2 separate regions of the Homo sapiens genome follow, and region 2 is linked to region 1. The links come from fine-mapping of genetic effects on gene expression. Tissue or cell type: tibial nerve. Region 1 holds a variant in brackets; the other region holds the start of a gene. All regions are shown on one strand. Distances are from middle to middle.

Region 1 (2,680 bases):
TGAAATGAGAAGGGAAGGAAAATAGAATTCTAGAAATAACCTTACAGCTGCCCTTCACTCTATGGAAAAAGTGAGCTCTTGACAGGAAAGGGGTTCTATCCATGATCTTACAATTCCTAAACAGCAACAGCATCATGGACGTATTTGTTCCTGGCGTCATAAGCCTGCATACGGTAGGCATTCAGTTAATAGGTACTGATTGGTCTAACAGAGGAAGCTGGGCTTGATTATAAAATAAACTAGGCTATGAAATCATGCCTCCTAAAAGCTCATTAAAGGCAGCAACACGGGATGGGGACTGTAAGGAAGTTGTCTCCCACCTGCCTCCCTCCTCAGACACACATCATTCCGCAGATGTGAAAACGACCCAGACTCTGCCCGCATGTGGCCTCCCGGACCGGGCAGTAGGGCCTTGCCCCTACCCTCATGAAGACTGTCGGCTGTGTTACAGAACTGCTGCTCTGTCTCTGACTCCCCTCACTCCCATGCTCTGTTGGAAACTCAAGTTGTGAAACCACAAAACACAGAAAGGAAGTGGTCAACTATTGCACATACTCAAGCTATGTAGTCTCAGTTTATTCCATTCTTGCAGGATCATTGTAGGAAGGCATAAGAGTCCTGCTTACTGGTGAGCCACTGAACACAAACTCCCTTCTCACCTCTGCCTTGGATCCCGCCATGCCTGAGGTCTAGGGCTAGAAGCGTTGTTTCATCCACATTAATTCCGGTCTTGGGCAACGTGGCTATTTTCTGACCTGTCTGTCTTCCCACCCTAGTGGTGAATTCTCTTTCTGGGATCTCAACTCCTTCTCCTGTCACCCAGCTTTTTCCGAGCAACCCCAGTCCATCTGGCATATCATTAGAATGTTAAACCTAAAACGGTAAGCCATTCTGTGAATACCTTTAAGTAACAGGATATTAAAATGAGACTTTTCCTGTTTTCTCAGTGCTAGCTGACATCTTTGAGCTGAGAAAAAAAAATATTGTTAAAAATGCTCATCTATTCTCAGGAGATGTCATCTGCTAAGGAGTGACCAAAAAAATGGTCCAATAACCCTGAAACCATCGCTCAAATCTTAGCTACGCAAGGGGAGACTTGTAAATTAATGAGGACGGCAAGGATTTCATGAGACAGAGCTTTCAGGCTGCTAAAATGCTTCCTCCTCCCTTCTCATGTGTTTTCCCCTCATCTTACGCAAATAAGAGGGGGCCTTCAGAGAATTACTTGGAGAGCTGACCTAGGACCCCTAGGCTTTGGGGAACATAGAATGTATTAGTGTCTATTGCTGCTGAAACAAATTAGCACACATTTAACAGCTTAAAAATAGCAAAATTACTACCTCACAGTTCTGTAGGTTAGAAGTCCAGTGGGCGCGGCTGGTGTGTGGGCTTCAAGCCTCACAGGGCTGAAATCAAGGTGTTGGCCAGGCTGTACTCCCTCCTAGAGGCTCTAATGAAGCATCTGTTTCCAGGC[C/T]TCTGCGCCTTGTTGGCGGAATTCAGTTCAATTTGCCTGATGGACTGAGGTCCCTGCTTCCCTGCGGGCTGTCGGCGGGAACTGCCACTGGCTCCTTGCAGCCTCTCTCTGATTCTTGCACAAGGGCACCTACATCTCAGAGCCAGCGAGAGTGTGAGTGTGTGGAATCCTTCTCACGAGGCCTCATCTCTCTGACTTTCGTCGGGAAATGTTCTCTGCTTTTAAAGGATCATGTAATTATTTTGAGCCTACCCGATAATCCAGGATAATCCCCTCATCTAAAAATCTGTTACCTTAACCACATCTGCAAAGTCCCTGTTGCCGTGTAATGTAAGCTATTCACAGGTTCTGGGGATTAGGAAAAGGACATCTTTGGTGGGGGCCTTATTCAGCCTACCACATAGAGATTAGTACCTGAAAAGCCAGCAGGTGAGAAGCTAGACAGAGCAGCCGGTGGCAGCTAAAGGAGAAAGGGGGCGAGAGCTGGAGAAGTCGCACTTCCGCCGATGGCGCAGCAAAGGGGATGTTGCCCTGGAGGACTCAGGGAACGGAACTGGGCTATCAGCCGAGAATGGGGCTCCACTCAAAAGGAGGAACCAACAGGAGACACAAGGAACCCCAGCAGGAAGAAGTCGGAGATGGAGGAGGGGAAGTCATAGCTGGAGGAGACGTGTGTTAGGAAGCTACAATGGCAGCTCCCTAGTGGAGGTGTTTCGGAAAAACTCCGAAGATTCCACTTGAGAAAATCATCGGCCTTCAGACAACGTCTATGCCAGATAATGCTACCAAATCACAACCTTGCCTTTCCTCCCTACTGCTGTTCTGATGTGGGAGGACCCAAAGGCAGCAGAAGAGCCAAAGAAGAGTAGCAGAAAGGTAAGTTTGGCTGTCATGCCCTGGCACACCTTGCTGCTACCCTGCAGCTCCCTGCCACCTGGCCATGCACTGCTTCCCCTCCACACCCTGCTGAGGCAGGTCTGGGCTGGGGACACAGGAAGCTTTGATGTTAGACTGAACTGGACCTTCAAGATCTCAAAACACAAAGTATTTGTTAGTAACTGAAAGGTGGCATAAATGTTAGATCAACCTAGGATTTTATCACCAAATAAGGAAACAAGTTCACTGGGCAGTTCTAAGAAAGAATAGAATTGCTTCCTGCTTGGTCTTTTTTGTTTAATAGACCAGATTCACAAATGCCCCAACCCT
Region 2 (2,680 bases), 630 kb before region 1:
GGGGGAAAAAAAAAATCACCGAAGGGAAAGACAAATAACAACTCTCGTCCCTCCTCCTCAGCGTCAAGAAAAGGTGGGGATCGCAAAATTACCGTTAAGTTGTCCGGGTAAAGACTTTTGGGGGAGGAAAACATTAATAGTTTCACAGATTGCTTTTTTCCTTGCGACATGTTTCAAACACCGGAGAAGAAAAAAGTCTTCTAAGAAAGTGCGACTCGGAGGAAATAGCCACGAGAAGGAAATCGTTAGCTCGAAGCCCCATCTTTCATCTCACCCGTGAACACTCCTCCCCTTTGAGAAAGGACAACGCTGCGAGAGCAAATGACAAAAATCCCCAGAAAGAAGCTAAAGTCCAGCATCTTTCCTAAGAGCCCGCTACAACCTCAAAAGCCTGCCCCTGCCCCATCTTGGAAGCGCGAGCCGCGGCCAGTCCTACCTACCTAGAGACCTCACCGGGACCCAGCGCGCCGGGGGAGGGCAGCCAGGGCTTGGGAAACTCTTTCCTGGGGCACCTCACGCTTCAGCGTCAAAAGACAATATAGATAGATGGGTGCCGGGCGGTGGCGGGGGGGACTGTTGCCACGACCCACCGGAGGGACCCATGACTCCGGGTCCTGAATTTTCTGTCGACCTTAAGTTTCTTGTCACGAGATGACGGCCATCACCGGGTCGAGAAAACGGCGAGAAAAGGCGGCCCGGTTCGGAAATGGGGGAGGGGCGCGCGTCCAGTCCTCCTGTCAAGGAGCGGCCGCCTGCAGAGACCCCGCAGTGCGCCGTCCCCGGCTCCGGTCCCGGGCGGGGGGTCTTGCTGACAGATCCGCTGGGCGGCGGCTGCTCCGCCGCAGCCGGTCCGCGTCCCGCTCAAACTGCAGCTCCCCTCCCCCCACAGCCCCGTCTCTCCGCGCTCCCGCCACATTCCGCCCGCCGCCGCCCACTCGCAGACGCCCAAGTTGCCCCTAACCCTACTTCCTCGGATTTTTCGCGATTAAGTGAGAGTAGACCCCGCGCCCACTCCCTGCACCCACCACTGCCTGCGGGTCCCACCACTGCCACCTCCCGAGTCCCGCTCTGCTACTTCTTCAGGCTCTTACCGACTGCGCCAGCCTTGGCGAAGCTCCGCCGACTGCCCTTTGCTCCAAGTAATTTTTGGCGATTTTTAAAGTAATTTTTCCGGCGGAGTCATAGTGGCGCTATACTCTCGGACAGGTTATCCTGTCTCTCCCGCTAGATTGATGAGATCAGGCATCACTCGAAAATGGCGCCGAAAGCGCTGAGGCTCCTCATTCAAATTCGTTAGAGCCAACCCCGCCGCCCCAGGGAATGCCGGGAACGCGGGCTGCCTCCACAGCTGTCAATACCGCCTCTTAACCCCCCTTCTCTTGCTTTCCCGACATTTTTACGCATGCGCAAACTCCAACCCTCCCCCCTCCTCCCGCCAGGCACATGCGCAGAATCATCGTGGTGCACGGCTCTCCCTTTGCTTCTTCGGTTGCAGTCCTCTTGCTTCTTGCGCGTGCGTGTAGCGCTTTTGCAAAGCCGCGGAGGTGAAGTGAACTTAGAGGTTGTGGGGCCGAGGGGTCGTCTTATAGCTACCAGCCCACAGGCATTTAGTCTACGTTGGAGGTAAACAAATACGGGTCCTGCTTAGGAGAAAAGAAAAACGTCTTACAGCCAGTGTCTAAACTCCAAACAACGGAATGTATCAATGAGACCTTGTATATGGATACACGTGCATTTAAAACCGCCCTGCCGGCTTGTAGAGCTTTTGCCGTTCTCCAGCGCTTTACAGGGGTTATCGCACTTAAGCCTCGGAACAACTTTACCAGGTAGGAACTATTACTGTTCTCGTTTTGAAGACCAGGAAACCTAGGCTCAGAGACGTTAAGTAATTTGCCCAAGACAGCACAGGTGGCACAGAAGTGGATGAATCCACATCTGTCAGATTCAGCAGCCCTGGAGTTCTCTACCACGCTGTACGATTCAACCTGAGCCCACACAGGAGGCGTGGTCTCCTTCTTCAACGGTGTGTGTGTGTGTGCGCGCGCGCCTGCCTAGAGTTAATGATTAAGTTTGCTGAAGCCCTTCTTCCCGGTCCTAAGCTGCCTGTTGCGAAGGCGCTTTCATTGAATTCAGTTTCTCTTACCGTCTTAACTTGTTCATAAACTTTTTGAGATAGGAATGGGCAGTTTTTCTGTGTCACTTAGGATGATTTTTTTTTTTAATGGCGTGATAAGTGAACTGAATCCAGCAAAGACGAGTTTCTGTTGTGCAACACGTTGGTATACTGACAGCTACCACGTATTGACTGTGTACTGTGTGCTGGGCACTGTGCTAAATAAATGATTTACGAATTAATCGTGTTTATTGCTCACAACAGCCTTATGAAGTAGGTATTATCTTCACTTTACAGATGAGGACACCTGAGGTTCAGATTAAGAAATCTGCCCCAAAGTCTTAGAACTGGTAAGTAGAAGCACCATATCTAGGCAAACCTGTCTACCTTCAAAAAAAATGGGCACTCTGATAGGACAATTAACGATAATAAAGTTGTAATTTTTTTTTTTTTTTGAGACGGAGCCTCGCTCTGTCGCCAGGCTGGAGTGCAGTGGCGCGATCTCGGCTCACTGCAGCCTCCGCCTCCCGGGTTCAAGCAATTCTCCTGCCTCAGCCTCCCGAGTAG

Which allele goes with the higher level. Positions count from the first base shown, and alleles are read on the strand shown. Sizes are in standard deviations (SD) of each study's normalised expression.
With allele T in place of C in region 1, the expression in tibial nerve of the gene that starts at base 1,438 in region 2 is lower (small effect, 0.26 SD a copy in GTEx).

What was found. PIP is the estimated chance that this variant, and not a neighbour inherited with it, causes the effect.
Region 2: DLEU1 starts here. The variant in region 1 is fine-mapped to the expression of DLEU1 in tibial nerve (GTEx, PIP 0.96).

Annotation. Positions count from the first base shown.
Region 1 is chr13:50,713,538-50,716,217 of GRCh38, forward strand. It overlaps a transcript of DLEU7 not described here. Among named protein-coding and RNA genes, the nearest start is that of DLEU7-AS1, 93 kb to the right of the region's middle. The variant C/T (reference allele first, on the strand shown) is at 1,475.
Region 2 is chr13:50,080,732-50,083,411 of GRCh38, forward strand. It overlaps DLEU1 (deleted in lymphocytic leukemia 1), which reads left to right and starts at 1,438. Exons shown (of 7, transcript NR_109974.1): 1 at 1,438-1,826; 2 at 2,411-2,463. All of the region lies in intron 1 of DLEU2 (deleted in lymphocytic leukemia 2), which reads right to left. RefSeq lists silencers at 582-876, 740-959, 1,360-1,409 and an enhancer at 1,567-2,362.